Homo sapiens: one gene and its partner. The protein of the gene in region 1 binds, or shares a complex with, the protein of each later gene. Each region holds a gene or a part of one and is shown on either strand. Other genes may lie near its edges.

What was found. The genes of interacting proteins can lie anywhere in the genome.
Region 2: the proteins of GPR161 (region 1) and GNAL are in contact, whole or in part, in a cryo-EM structure (PDB 8KH4), measured with the Homo sapiens proteins. Residues at the interface, in NP_001254539.1 of Homo sapiens: Arg125, Ala128, Val129, Leu130, Pro132, Met133, Tyr135, Pro136, Met137, Ile139, Ile211, Val214, Ala215, Lys218, Ala219, Lys267, Ala268, Thr271, Trp327, Asn328, Lys329, Arg332; in NP_001135811.1 of Homo sapiens: Ala41, His43, Lys203, Val204, Phe206, Phe363, Cys366, Arg367, Asp368, Ile370, Gln371, Arg372, His374, Leu375, Gln377, Tyr378, Glu379, Leu380, Leu381.

What each region holds. Positions count from the first base shown.
Region 1 is NC_000001.11:168,133,333-168,141,614, reverse strand, and holds the start of GPR161 (G-protein coupled receptor 161), read left to right. Parts: upstream 1-4,684; 5' UTR 4,685-4,876; exon of another isoform or gene 4,877-5,218; coding exon of another isoform or gene 5,219-5,358; exon of another isoform or gene 5,359-5,605; intron 5,606-6,578; exon of another isoform or gene 6,579-6,693; coding exon of another isoform or gene 6,694-6,709; intron 6,710-7,693; exon of another isoform or gene 7,694-7,739; intron 7,740-8,282. UniProt on the Homo sapiens protein: Key negative regulator of Shh signaling, which promotes the processing of GLI3 into GLI3R during neural tube development.
Region 2 is NC_000018.10:11,867,264-11,874,847, forward strand, and holds part of GNAL (guanine nucleotide-binding protein G(olf) subunit alpha), read left to right. Parts: intron 1-1,279; coding exon 1,280-1,400; intron 1,401-5,004; coding exon 5,005-5,135; intron 5,136-7,584. UniProt on the Homo sapiens protein: Guanine nucleotide-binding protein (G protein) involved as transducer in olfactory signal transduction controlled by G protein-coupled receptors (GPCRs).

The DNA.
Region 1 (8,282 bases):
TTCTTCAGTTTTTGGAGGTTTTTTCTTTTTTGAGTTAACTTTTCTCAAATTTGTAAAATATGTACTTAGTTTCAAAGCCATACAGCAAGGAACCTTCCTAGAAACCTTGCTTTCTTTTTCATTCCTTCTGTTTGTTCCTTTCCCTTATTGGAAACCTTCTTTTTATTGTTTTTGGTTTGTTTTTCCACTTTTAAGTATAAGCAAATACCTATATATTTATTTTCTTTCCTTTTCTCACATAAAAGATAACATAGGCTGGGCGTGGTGGCTCACACCTGTAATCCCAGCACTTTGGGAGGCCAAGGAGGGTGGATCATTTGAAGTCAGGAGTTCAAGACCAGCCTGGCCAACATGGTGAAACCCCGTCTCTACTAAAAATAAAAAATTAGCCTGGTGGTAGTGGGGCGCGCCTGTAATCCCAGCGACTCGGGTGACTGAGGCAGGGGAATCGCTTGAGTCTGGGAGACAGAGGTTGCAGTGATCTGAGATCGCGTCACTGTACTCCAGTCTGGGCAACAAAGTGAGACCATGTCTCAAAAAAAAAAAAAAGATAATGTATAGCAAATATTCCTGCACCTTGCTTTTTTCCACTTAACAATACGTCTTTGAGGCCACTACATGTTAGTGTATAGAGATTTTCTTCATTCATTTGTAGCACTGAATCCTAACTTATTCCTCTAATCCCCTACTGACAGACATTTGGGCATTTTTAATCTTCTGTAATTACAAATGTATCCCAAATATATAATGTTGCTTTTTATTGGCAACAGAAGATAAATGTGTACTTGAGGATTTTTTTAATAGATCAAAAGATAAATGTACTTGAGGATACTTTTTTCCCCCGATACAAAATATGTGGAATTTTTTCCAACATCAATCAATTCTCTGACACCAATTGGGTATCCAACAATTCAATTCAATTCCGACACTAACTGCCTGAGATAGTTCAGACTCCACAGATTAAGGGCTCAGTCCCATACACTGTCCCCACTTCAGGCACCACATGAATGTCCAGGGCCTCCAGTACTTCTGACCGACTTGGCTTCAGATCAGGAGTTCCCATGGCTAATAATTTCCTATAACAGCTCACAGAGCTCAAGAAAGCACTTTACTTACTTTGATTACTGGTTTATGACAAAGGATGCAATTCAAGAGAAGCCAGATGGAAGAGATGTGTAGGACAAGGCAGTGGTACGATCTCAGCTCACTGCAACCTCCACCTCCCCGGTTCAAGCAATTCTTGTGCCTCAGCCTCCCATGTAGCTAGGACTACAAGTATGTGCCACCATGCTCGGCTAATATTTGTATTTTTAGTAGAGACACGGTTTTGCCATGTTGGCCAGGCTGGTCTTGAACTCCTGACCTCAAGTGATCCACCCGCCTTGGCCTCCCAAAGTGCTTGGGTTACAGGAGTGAGCCACCGCATCCAGCCCAATAATGCTCATTTCAATATATCAGCCCTAGTGGATGACATCATGAAGTGGTCAGACACTTGAAGTTATAGACAGGATCACTGCAAGTATGACACAGATATATAAATGTAGACCAAGTCACCTAACTTGTACTAGTAAATCTGATACCATGAGTGGCATTGTTAATAGTGAGGTGATTTCCAAAATACTGAACAACTCTTGGTGAGGTTTGAGTAAATCAAGGTGCAATCTTCCTTCAATTCACATAGTACTTGCATTCCTAGACAAATTGCTGTACAACAAAACCATGCAAAAAAACCCCTCATGGATATATGTAAAATAGTTTGGTTTCAGACTTAGAAAAGTATAGACAGTTTTTACTGTCATGTGTGAAAGGAACTGTTCTTTTTGTGTAGGACTATTTCATGTACTGCAAGATGTCTGGTATCCTGGGCCGCACCCAATAAATGCCTGGGGTGTCCTCTAATCATTGTGACAAACCCAAAATGCCTTTCAAAATGTCGTATTAAGAATCACTGAGTGAGATGCTTTCTGTTCCAAGTAACAGAAATAAACCCATACTGATTCAATAAAAATATATGTATATTGATTGGCTCTTGTTTCTGATCAGTCCAGAGGCACATCAGTTTCAGGGAAGTTTCCATCTGAGGTCAAATGGTTTTACCATTCTATCAGTGGAGGCATACTGTAAACAAATAAATAGAAAAATTGATGCATATTTTATAAATTTGGACACATTTTATGTAGAAAAACAACAGAGCTGTGAAAGAGTACATAGATTAGAGAATTTCTTTTAGATTGGTCAGGGGCTGAGTGCAGTGGCTCACATCTGTAATTCCAGCACTTTGGGAGGCCAAGGTGAGAGGATAGCTTGAGCCCAGGAGTTAAAGACAAGCCTGGGCAACATAGCAAGATCCCATCAGGGAAGACTTCTCTAAGGAAGTGACATTTAAGGTGAGATGTGAAGGGCAGGAAGGGCTTGGCCTGTAAAGAGTGGAGGAAATAACATTCCATGTGGAACAAATAGCATATTTCACAGTTTTGCTTTCACCAGTTTTATGTGGACTGCTAGACTGAAATGATATTTTACATAAAATATGTTTTATATATAAATTATTCAACACACATGTGAGGTTCAGTTGGACAAGGCCTCTCATTATCTTACTTTATAAGTCTTTGTGGATGTCTCTAAAACAGAATGGTTTATTAAACTAATTTGGGAAAGGAGAATTAGTGTGTATCTTTCTCTTTTTCTAAAAAAATATAAATACATTCTTGCACAAAATCAGTCACGTTTTTCACAATTGTCACCTATACAATGATATACGGTGAAATAATTACTTTAATAATAATTTGTCTGTTTTCTCTGCATCTGATTGAATTCTGCTCATAGCTCAATATTAGCTCCAGAAGGGAAAAAAATCTTAAGAGAGCAATTGAAAATGCATTTGTTGGCAGCAATTTCCATCCCTGAATGCACAGTAAGTTCTGAGCTTATGAGCTCAGAAAAAAGAAAAATCTTTGTGATAAATAATGCATTTGATAATGAGCAGCAGGAGAAAAAAAGTGTTTTCTGTTGAAGAGTTCAAAATGAAATAGAGTAAGTATGGGAAAAGGTTGCTCAGTATGAAGGACATCTTTCGCATCATGGATGGGTATGGAGCCACAACAGCCGTAACTGTTTATTTTTTATTCTCATTCTCACCATGCCAGTCTGTGGCATATATTTTCAGACCTTTCGTGAATACCAATTTTCAAAAGGGTTTAGTTCTCAGATTCTATGTCACTGGATGATTTACTTACATGACCTCATTTAACCTTTTCAACTCTACAGATAGGAAAGTATGAGTATCCCCATTTTATATATGAATAAGCTGAGAGGAAGGTTAACTCACTCCCTCAGGCTCATAGAGCTTAGCCGACATCTGAGTCAGTGTAAATTAAATAAATATCAGGGATTTCAAAATAAGTGTCTAAAATACTATTAAGAACAGAAAGCTTTAAGCTCCTTCAAGTGTCTGGCTTGCCGCGTGACCTAGACTCTTAAGTGGAGCGTCAGCTTCCAGTTTTTGACCAAATAAAGCATTTATCCCATAGGAATATTAAGGCACCCATTTACTTTTTTCTCCCCATTATCCCATTTGTCCCCAGAGCAATGTGGGTGTTTGGCAGGTGCCAGACAGTAAATTACTGTTCTAAATTGTGCCTCAGTGGCCCAATAATATTAAGGAAGCATCTCCCACAGTGTCAATCTGTAGACAAGGGAATAATTAATGTATTTATCAAAGCAGATGGATTTCAGAGGAATGTGAATCCTGCTCTAAGCACAGCATCAGGGTTTGTTTTTTTTTTTCTGGAGTTTAGTGAACTGGGCTTTGTAACTTCTTACCTGATTATTTTGCTGCCCTGTTTGTCCTTCCTTCTTTCCCTTTTTAGCAGTTCTACTCTGTGCTTCAACTTTTCATCCCCTTATTAAGACTGCTGCATAGAAAACGTAGGAGTCTGGAGACAGGCAGGCAAAGTGGGGAGTGAGGAAGGGAAAACAAACATTCTGAGAAGGAACTGTTCCGTCCCCCGAGCTGACAGCGCCCGCTCTTTGTTTTGTGATGACTGCTCCCTGGCCTTTTGGTTCCGAGGGAGTGCAGGGCAGCAGTGTGAAGACCTGTTTACGTCCACTCCCCACTCCCCGGGGCTGGCTTCGGGACGAATTCACTGTGGTATTAACAGAGCCCGGGACAGAGCCTGGCAGAAGGCAGATGGATGCTCGTGCCCGTCGGCTGGATGAATGAAAGGTGAGCAGCAAAGGCGATACCAGGATCGTCCACGGCGGGACTGGAGGAGGAGAATGGGACTGTGCGGAGCCTGCGGGAAGAATCTGAAAGTGTCTGTGTGATGGAGAGAGACATGGAAAAGGCGACGTCCCAGCGGCTGGAACTGGGGCGGAGGAACGGGAACAGGGAAGGCCTGAGTTAGGCACCACAAAGGTTTTCAGGAGAAAAGTGGGGCGAGCCGAGAGGGTAAGGGCGAGACAAAGAGCAGCAGCCGAGGCTGTTCGTGGGAAGAAATGGGAAAGAAGCAGCCGGGAGGGCGGGCGGACGGACGCGAAGGAAGGGGCGCGGGTGGGGAGGGGCGCCGGGAGCTGGGCGGGGCGGGGCAGTGCGGGGCGCGGGGAGGCGGCTCGGGGCTCCGGGGGCCGGAGGGGCCCGGCCGGGCGTGGGGGGGGCGGGGCGGGGCGCGGGCGCCGCAAAGTTACTTGGCCTGCGCCCGCCCGGGTCCGCGTGCTGGTGGCTGGCCCGCGGGAGGAGCGAAGCGGGGCTCGGTGGGCTGAAACCCGAAACCTCCAGTCCCGGAGCGCGGCGGGGAGGAAGGAAGCGGCGGCGGCGGTGGCCGAGGCGGGGAGGCGGCTGGGCCGGGGCCTGAGCTGCCGCGGCGGCCGCTCCTCGGTGAGCACCCGGCGTGGGGCGCGGGCGCGGGCCCGGGCGGAGAGGGCGGTCCGGATGGAGCCAGGCTAAACTCATTGTGCGAGGCTGAGGGCTCAGGGCGCGGGCCGGGAAGGGTCCCCGCCCCCACGGCGCTCCCTTTCTCCCCGCGCCCCTCTCGGAGGTCAGGGCTGTCCTCCGCCCGCACTGCGCCTTGCTTTGGAGAGCTGGAGCTCTTTGTGGGAAGATGTTGGGGGCGCGCCCCTCCCCTGCGGCCTGGGGCTTCTGAGAGGCCCACCCCATTCTGCTGGGTGCAGCCCGCCCCGTTTCTCCGGCGCCGCCCGAAGCCCCTAAACAGTCCGCTGGATGGGAGGGCGTAGGTGCGTGCCCGGGACTCTGCCGATGCGGGCCGCGCCCCCTGGGGCCAAGAGACTCCACGTCCCGCTCAGGGCAAAGGGTGTGGGGAGAAGCGGTCACGCCCCTCGGCTGGAATCCGTGAGGACCAGGTGAGCAGCCTTCTCCCAGCCGGGACTCAGGGCGCTGTCTCCCCGAGCCTGGGCGGGCGGCGGGTGGCGCGCCCAGAAGTGGCCCGGCGCCGCCGGATGGGCGGCTCTGCCCCTCAGATCTGCGGGAGGGAGATTCGGCTGGTTCTTGGAAAGGGGAGAACTCGACCAGCCCTCGGCGCCTTCTGGGCCAAGCTTAACCCCCGTGCAACCTTTGGACAAAGGCATATGGGATGAGAACGTCTGTTGGGTAAGTGGGGTGTGTCCTGTGCTTCCCGGAGGTCTGCTCACCAGTAACCACATAGCTGCGCATTGGCATCGCTTTATATCACATCTTGGAGGCTATTTTTGCTTGTTATTGTACTTTCATCCCTTTTGCAAAGTGCTTTCATAGAGCAGGTCATTTGATCCACCTCCCGGTGAAGCCGTGAGGAGGTGTGTGGTTTTGGAGGGAAAGAACCTCAGTTCCTTGATTGTCCAATGGAGACACCGATAACCTCCGGTGAGCCTGTCTCAGCGTCCTAGGGGCTGGGGGAGGATGGCCATCCTTGTGGCTCCTCCGTGGAGCCAGGCGTGGATTCAGCCTGGCTTCTTCTCCCCTAGTGACCTGGACCTCCAGATGAGTTCTGGAGAGCTACTGCTTCGGGGAATAGGCGGTTTTCCCTTATAATCTATTTTACTGCAGCCACTGGGAGCAAGTGAAGAGAGGCATTTTTCAGGCCCTCAGGGCAGAAAGAGGAGGTGGGAGGGACCTCAGGTCATAGAGACAGAGGCTCTTCAACTGTAACTGGAATGCATGGCACCCATTTCTGTTACTTCTTTCAGAGCACCTCTCTTCCGGTCCTCCTCCACACCCGTCTTATTTTATACTTGTCAGGTGCTTACAAGCACTTTCATGTACACTTTTTCATTCACACAACAACCTTGTGAAGCTCTACTAGCCCATTTGATAGGTGAGGAAACTGAGGCTCAGGAGAGATGAAGCATTCTTGCCCAGCTAGGTAAGCAGCCCAGATTGAACTCAGATCTTTTGCCTTGGTAGTGCTTTTCACGTGGTTTCCTGATGGCACACAGGTGAGTTCTTTAACTCAGGGCTTCTCCCTGCCCTGTAGCTCCACTGCCATAACATCAAGAATAGAGACCCCTCATTAAGAGGCCCGCTTGACATTTTGGAACTAATCCAAGGCCGCAACGATATCCGAACCGTTCTCTTTGTGTTGCAGCCTGGTGCACTGTGCGTCCTCTGAGAGGTGAAGGAGCACTGTGTGGTCAGAGGGCTGCGAGCTCTCTGTTTGGGTTCCGAGGAAGACAGAATGGGCTGAACTGGAACTGACCTAAATGTCAGCAAGAGGAGGTACAGTTCTGTGGTGTAAACTCCACTGCCAGCAGGGACCAGTCAGGAAGCCTGAGTGCAGGAGGCGGGTGGACAGGAGGGCTGGGTGGGAGCTGTGTGCTGCTAAGCCTGTCTCCAGTAAGGGGGCAGCTGCAGGTGCGGTGGGGCTCCAGCACATGGTTGCCTGATCTTAGTTTTGGGGGAAACTGTAAATTTTTACGGAAAACAAGCTTCATATATTTTTAAAGATAGCAACTGATTCAAAACATTTTTTTTAATGTGCGTGCAGTTTAACCAAATTATGTGTGCAGGCTGCTTGCGTCTTCTGTGTGAGACCTTGGGAAGCACTGACTGTCATTCTGAGATGCAGTAAAGCATGACAGCAGGGGAGAAATGGTGTCTTCTTGCTGTTTTTCTATAAGAACAAAAAACATCAACAGAACTAGAGATAGCTATCAGTGCTACCTGGAGTTTGGAGGAGGGATTGACTTTATGACTCCATACTTCATTCATTCACCCAGTACTCGTCTATGACTCTGTTTCTACACCAAGAGAAAAGGCTTACAACTAGTTTTAATCTATTTCCTTGCACATTTTATGTGCTCAGCAGGGGAGAGGATAGCATTCATGGCAAATATGTTCAGGGAGTGCTGGAGCATAAAGGAAGGAATTTGCAGTTGGCCAGGGGTAAAGCATGAGGAGGTATATTTCAATTTTATTTTAGTTTGTGTTTGTTTTATACTCAAGCAATGGGTGAGAGAACACTGTGTTAAGAGCACTATCTGAAGTCAGACAGCCTACCTCCCAGCCCTGCCCCTTATAAACTTGTGACCTTAGGTAAATAATGTAAAGCATTCATGGAATATAGTAATTTTTCAAAACTAAGAGCTGTAAATATTTTAAAACACAGTAACATATAGGAAAATAAATTAAATTCCCCTCCACCTCTTCTCTACTCCTTCTCCCCACCTTTGAGATAACCACTGTAAATGTCTGTCTTTTTAGGTCTTTTTCAGTGTGCTCAATATGGTCACCAAGCCTGGAAACATAGGTGAATATATAGTTTATTGCTATTATATAAAACATGATAAAAAAGTATTACCTACATTTCTCACTTTAGGACCAACCTGAATATATTGAATATACTTGAAAAAATACATAAATGAAGCTGGGCATGGTGGCGCACACCTGTAGTCCCAGTTACTTGATAGGCTGAGGTGGGAGGATCGCTTGAGCCTAAGAGTTCAAGTCCAGCATGGACAACATAGTAAGATCCTGTCTGTTAAAAAAAGAAAAACATAAATCGGGTCATATAATAATGCTCTGTGGTTTACTTTTCTGATTTAACAATATGACTTAGAAGTCATTCAATAACAATAACAGATACATTGTACTTCATTCTTTTTAATAATAACATAGTATTTCATAGTATCGGTTCCCTATAAATTATTTAAACATTCCCCTCTTGATGGACTCATAGATTGGCTTCCAATTTAATTTAGATTTTCTGTGTATCTTTATCTGTGTACATGTACAATATTTCTGGGTAAAAATTGTTCCTGGACGTGGGATCTGTGGGTCAAAGGAAATGTAC
Region 2 (7,584 bases), on another chromosome or scaffold:
ATTCTAACACTCAGCACTGCTGTGCTTAACTATTCTTGAATTAGATAATCTCTAACTAATATGTAAAGTATAGCATTTATAGATTATGATGCTCCTTCCTTAGATACTAATCTCATTAAAAAAAGCATTTAAGGGCCTGACACGGTGGCTCACGCCCGTAATCCCAGCACCTTGGGAGGCCAAGGAGGGCGGATAACCTGAAGTCAGGAGTTCGAGACCAGCCTGGCCAACATGTCGAAACTGGGGCTCTGTTAAAAATACAAAAATTAGGCCGGGCGTGGTGGCTCATACCTGTAATCCCAGCACTTTGGGAGGCCGAGGCGGGCAGATCACGAGGTCAGGAGATCGAGACCATCCTGGCTAACGAGGTGAAACCCCGTCTGTACTAAAAATACAAAAAATTAGCCGGGTGCGGTGGTGGGTGCCTGTAGTCCCAGCTACTCAGGAGGCTGAGGCAGGAGAATGGCGTGAACCTGGGAGGCAGAGCTTGCAGTGAGCTGAGATCGCACCACTGCAGCAGTCCGGCCTGGGCAAAAGAGCGAGACTCTGTCAAAAAAAAATAATAATAATAAAAAAATTAGCCGGGTGTGGTGGCTCATGCCTGTAATCCCAGCACTTTGGGAGGCTGGGGTGGGTGGATCACCTGAGGTCAGGAGTTCAAGATCAGCCTGACCAACATAGTGAAACCCCGTCTCTACTAAAAATGCAAAAATTAGCCGGGTGTTATGGCGCACACCTTTAATCCCAGCTACTCGGGAGGCTGAGGCAGGAGAATCACCTGAACCCGGGAGGCAGAGGTTGCAGTGAGCCAAGATTGCGCCATTGCACTCCAGCCTGGGCAACAAGAGTGAAACTCTGTCTCGGAAGAAAATACAAAAATACAAAAATTAGCCAGGTGTGGTGACACATGCCTATAATCCTAGCTACTAGGGAGGCTGAGGCAGGAGAATCACTTGAACCTGGGAGGCGGAAGTTGCAGTGAGCCAAGATCATGCCATTGCACTCCAGCCTGGGAGACAAGAGTGAAACTCCATCTCAAAAAAAAAAAAGCACTTAAGCATCCCAAATTTACATGTGTCTTTTGGGGTGGGCTCTTCATCAAGTGCGTTACTGAAGCAACCAGTGGTGCGCGGCGCACCTGCAGGCTGTTCTGTGACTGAATAGTCCTATCACTGAATGAATGTTTTTGTGGAACTGAGTAGCTGCTGGGTGTGTACTTTCTTGTAACTCCACAGTGAGGATGTCTAACTGAGGTGCTTTCCTTTTTCTCCCCACCAAGATGTCACAGCTATCATTTACGTCGCAGCCTGCAGTAGCTACAACATGGTGATTCGAGAAGATAACAACACCAACAGGCTGAGAGAGTCCCTGGATCTTTTTGAAAGCATCTGGAACAACAGGTGACAAAAATAGCAAATTCAGTCTTACCATTGGATTGCAAATTTTCTTTTGTTAAAAATACGCTCAGGCCAGGCGTTGTGGCTCACACCTGTAATCTCAACACTGGGAGGCCGAGGCAGGTGTGTCACTTGAGCTCAGCAGTTGGAGACTAGCCTGGGCAACATGGAGAAACCCTGTCTCTACAAAAAATACAAAAATTAGCCAGGTGTGGTGGTGCACACCTGCCCAGTGACTCAGGAGCTTGAGGTAGGGGGATCACTTGAGCCCAGGAGGTAAGGGTTGCAATGAGCTGAGATCACACTACTGCACTCCTGCCTGGGCAACAGAGCAAGACCTTGTCTCAAAACACACACACATACCTACACCCACACCCACACACCCACACACTCTCTTTACTGATAAATCCAGAACCGTACGAAGTATCTCTTTTAGTTCATCTATTGTATAGATATACTTAAAATGTGGAATATTTTTTTTTATTATTTTTTTTTTATTTTGAGATAGAGTCTCGCTGTGTCACCCAGGCTGGAGTGCAGTGGCGCCATCTCGGCCCACTGCAAGCTCCACCTCCCGGGTTCATGCCATTCTCCTTCCTCAGCCTCCTGAGTAGCTGGGACTACAGGCGCCCTCCACCACACCCAGCTAATATTTTGTATTTTTAGTAGAGACCGGGTTTCACCATGTTAGCCAGGATGGTCTTGATCTCCTGACCTCGTGATCCACCCACCTCGGCCTCCCAAAGTGCTGGGATTACAGGCGTGAGCCACCGCACCCGGCCAATGTGGAGTATTCTTTGATGAAGTTCTGATAGTTCTTTGTCAAGAAAATTTAAGTCTCTGTTTTGAAAGGCTAAGATTATATTCGGCCTTCCATATCTTCAGGTTCCACATCTGCGGATTCAACCAACCACAGATTGAAAATATTCAAAAATAAATTTAAGATAGCAGTACAACAACAAAAAATAATACAAGATTACAGTGGCATACGCCTATAATCCCAGCACTTTGGGAGGCTGAGACGGGGGAATTGCTTGAGCTCAGGAATTGGAGACCAGTCTGGGCAACATGTTGAAACCCTGTCTCTACAAAAAATACAAAAATTAGGCATGGTGGGGCGCGCTTGTAGTCCCAGCTACTTGGGAAGCTGAGGCAGGAGGATCACTTGAGCCCAGGAGGCGGAGGTTACAGTAAGCTGCGATTGCATCACTGCACGTCAGTCTGGGCGACAGAGGGAGACTGTGTCTCAAAAAACGTAATTAATTAAAATAAAAAATTGAGCAAATAAAAAAATTGACTAAAAATAATACAAATAAACAATACAGTATAACAACTACTTACCTAGCTTTTACATCGTGTTAGGTATTTTAGGTAATTGGAGATGATTTAAGCATACGGGAGGATGTGCATGGTTTATATGCAAATACTACACCATTTCATATAAGGGAGCCTCCTCAAATTTTGGTTTTCACAGGGAGTCCTAGACCAATCCCCCACGGGTATCAAGGGATGACTCTATATCTAGGGTTCAAAATAGGTTTTGTTTGGTTTTTAAATTTTAGGAAGTACCAGTTTAGGGGCCGGGAACAGTGGCTCATGCCTGTAATCCCAGCACTTTGGGAGGCCAAGGCAGGAAGATCACCTGAGATCAGGAGTTCGAGACCAACCTGGCCAATATGGCGAAACCCCGTCTCTACTAAAACTACAAAAATTAGCCAGGAGTGGTGGTGGGCGCCTGTAATCCCAGCTACTCGGGAGGCTGAGGCAGGAGAATCGCTTGAACCCGGGAGGTGGAGGTTGCAGCGAGCTGAGATCGCACCACTGAACTCCAGCCTGGGCAACAGAGTGAGACTCTGTCTCAAAAAGTAAAAAAAAAAATTTTTTTAATTTTGAAAATAAATAAAGTACCAGTTTAGGACATCCACTAATAACTAGATGATCTCTAAGATCCCTTACAGCTCACAATCACCACATAATCATGTTTGAAACTACTAGCATTGCAGATTGGCAGAAGTGATTATTTCAGAAAGGAATATTTAGCGCGCACACACACAATACATACATATATAGTTAGAAATCAAAGTTTCTTCTGAAATATTTTGGAAGAAATATTACCAAGGAGGAGAGGAAACATAAGTTTACCTTATAAAAGTTTTGGATTATCAGAAAAGTGTTTTTGTATGAAATGTTCAACAACCATCCTCAAATTTGTGGTAATAAGACTGTTAATAGGAAAGAAACAGGGTCAGGAAATACCAGGTATACAGAAGGATACTATAGAGTTATTATGAATTTATTTATAAACACTATATGTGTAAGTGGGAAAATGACCACAATCTTCTTATAGGAAAAAGCTGATTTTAAAACACTATGATCTCGTTTTTAAGTATGTGTGAGGACAGAAAAAAACTTGGGCATGAAAACATAAAATTTCTGTAGTAATTGTTTCTGGGTATAATTACATTTGATTTTTTTCTGTATGTTTTTCTATAAGATTTGTTTTTACAAAGGTTATATATTTTATTACTAGAAGAAGCAGGTAAGCTATTTCCATTTGACGGGAAAGTGGATTGTGTGTGTGGGTTTTTCTTTCTTTTTTTTTTTTTTTGAGACAGAGTCTCGCTCTGTCCCCCAGGCTGGAGTGCAGTGGTGCAATCTCAGCTCACCACAACCTCCACCTCCCCAGTTCAAGCGATTCTCCTGCCTCAGCCTCCCGAGTAGCTGGGACTGCAGGCACGTGCCACCACGCCCAGCTACTTTTTGTATTTTTAGTAGAGACAGGGTTTCACAGTGTTGGTCAGGCTGGTCTCGAACTCCTGACCTCGTGATCTGCCCACCTCTGCCCCACAAAGTGCTGGGATTACAGGCGTGAGCCACCACACGTGGCCAAATTGTGTTATTAATTGATAGTAAGATTCCTGTAGACTAATCAGTTAGCTTGATTCCTTTGAAGTGATGGAGGCGGAAGAAGAACCAAGCCAGCTGCATGTTAAGCTCTGTGTTATTAGCTAATGAGTCATATATTACTTTGTTGTTGTTAACACTTTCACTTCTAATGTGAGTTTTCCGACCTTTTATTGGTAAATTACACCACAGAAATTCAAGTGAACTCATTACATAAGTAAATCTTAGCTTTGGTTCCAATAAATCTATATCCCCCATGGGACTGAATTAGAAAGTGCTTAACTACAGATTGAGTATCCCTTATCCGAAATGCTTGGGACCAAAAGTGTTTAAGATTTCTTGTTGTTGTTGTTTTTTGGAATAGTTGCATTATACTTACTAGTCCAGCATCCCTAATATGAAAATGCAAAGTGTCAAATGCTCCGACAAGCATTTCCTTCGAGCATCATGTCAGTGCTGAAAAAGTTTTGGATTTTGAAGCATTTTGGATTTTGTGTTTTTGGATTAGGGATGCTCAACCTGTACCTATATTTGTTTATCATTCTTTACAGATGGAATGAGGATACTGGTGTACTGAACTTTCTTGAATCCTATACATTTTTAGGAAGACGATGGTATTCTTTTAATTTAGCAACTTCTATGTTAGAGGCACTTTCATGTACTAGTGTATGTGAAATTTGTATGTTTATTTTTCCTTTTTTAGGTGGTTACGGACCATTTCTATCATCTTGTTCTTGAACAAACAAGATATGCTGGCAGAAAAAGTCTTGGCAGGGAAATCAAAAATTGAAGACTATTTCCCAGAATATGCAAATTATACTGTTCCTGAAGACGGTAAGATTTCAAAACACATTCTTATGATTGAGGAATAGAATTGTTTTATTAATAGTCCTGTAACTCTAATTCACATACCTCTGATGAATCAAAGAAATTCACTTTATTTAAATCAATTTTCTTTCTACTGCCCATATCCTAAAGTATTAGAGTGTTACAAGGTCCTATTTGTAATCGGATCCCATTTGTAAATGTTTCCGAGTTTGACTTTCCATTGAAACCGTGCAGCAGAAGAAAGAGCCATTTTGGGATGTGACTGTGTCATGCTGGTATGAGCTCTCCCTCTAGTGCCTTTGGCTGGGTGTGACATGACAGGTGCCTTGTTAGTCCTTGATACAGACCTTCTCACTTCACCCTCAGATGACCCTGCATGGTAGTTTCTATTATTTTTTCCCGTGGAAAGAGAGTCTGAGAGAGGAGAGATAGCGTGTTCAAAGCCACACGGGTAGAGTCATGCAGGCAAGGCAGTCCTTGCACCCTTTGTCCCCAAGCCCATGCTGGCAGCAGCCGCGCTTATCTGCTCCTGTCTCTAGCCTTGCTGTGGCTGCAGCCTTGGGGATTTCCAGCAGGGCCAGCAGCCATCCCAGGCCACCTGAGACTGAGGGGTTTCCGGGGCACGGGACCGTCAGTGCTAAAGCTGGGAAGGTAGACCAGGAAGAGTTGGTCACTCCGTTTCCAGTCGCTTACACTTCAGTTTCCAGTGAACACCAGGTCTACCAGAGGCTCATAGGAGTGATTTAAGGTGAAATAACACCGCTTCTTACATCTTGAATTCCAAACTAGAAAACGCAGAATAAAAGACACTTTCCTGGAAAATATAGTTAAGATTTGGAAAATTTATTTTTTATCCTCAATGAAGAGGGAAAAGAAAACTTGCATTTGTCATTAAACTTTTTTGCTCCTTATGTTCAATGTTCTTTTCTCCCTCATGGGAGAGGCATTATATAAGTATATTCATAGTAAAATCCTGACCCTTGTGGGGCCTTCCAACAAAATCCTACTGCTATCACCTGTGTCATAAAGACCCGAAAAAAATTCCTACTGCTACATATTTCCTTATAGGAATAAATAATAGACATTGGAAATGGGCCTGAGCACCAGCTCTGCCTGTGGTCTCACCAGACCCAGCTGCTTTCATGAGCCACCAGCAGTCTCCGCACCCGCCAGAGGGTCACTCAGCGTGAGGTCAAGGTCCAGGCTCTTCCTGAGACCAAATCAAGTGGAAATCTCATTGCAGTTCATCACTGCCTTGCTCTACCCGCAGCCTGATGATGTGCTTTCCAGGACTGAGGCCGGGTGCCGCTTGCCCATGGCACATCATCAGAGCATGGCTTCTGCTGCGCTTTCTGTGGCTGGCATTGCCAGTTTCCCAGCAAGCTGGGTCTTTAATTCTCCCGCTAACCGCCTCTTGCCACCTCCTGTCACTCAGCTCAGGCAGTGGCTCGGCGGCCGGGGGGTCCTTCCAACAGGGTCTGCCTCCCCAGGCCCTTCCCTCTTTCCCTCCTCATGGCTGTGGTCCAGGCCCTCACTCCTCTCGTCTCAGCAGCTGCCACAGCTTCCTGCCTGACCTCCTGTAGCTGGTCACTCACCTTTCCAGAACATTCTGTGAACTACCAAAGTCACCCTTCTGAGACACAACCTTACCTGCTTAGGAGCACCAAGGAGAAGCACCACCACTGGCTGACAGCCAAGGCCACCTGCCCAGCCGCGGGTGCTGAAGGGCTTCCGTCCAGGGGCTGAGGGGACCCTGGCTTGCTGCCTCGGTGCCAGGCCCAGTGACTGCTCTTCACCCAGCAGCATGCGTCATCTCCATCTGTGCCCTGCCTCTCCCAAGAGACTCACCCATCCCTGAGCATCTGCAGCACCTGCTGGAAGCCTGGGACCACCATCAACTCCAACGTCAACTCTCACTTAGCAATTAAAAGGAACTAACAGTTGGTCCATGTGACGGCATGGGTTAAACTCACAGTAATTGTGCTGACAGAAAGAATCAAAGCAAAAACTACACACCATGTGAATGCATTTGTGTAAATGTCTAAAAAGTAAATTAGCTGGGCGTGGTGGTGTGCGCCTGTAGTCCCAGCTACTCGGGAGGCTGAGGCAGGAGAATCACTTGAACCCAGGAGGCGGAGGTTGCAGTGAGCCAAGATCGTGCCACTGCACTCCAGCCTGGGCGACAGAACAAGGCTCCGTCTCAAAAAAACAAAAAAAAAGCACTCCAGCCTGGGTGACGGAGTGAGACTTAGTCTCAAGAAAAAAAAAAAGAACTCCTCAGATGGTACACGGACACTCTGGGCATTCCAGAGTATGTCAGTGACCCCCACCCCCGCCAAGATAAATGACATGGGCGCTCCCCAGCCACTCCAGAACACAGCCCAGGCAGAGACCCACAGCGGTTGCTGCACCCTTCCCTCCCTCACTGGATGCTGCACCCACCCACCCCCCACAG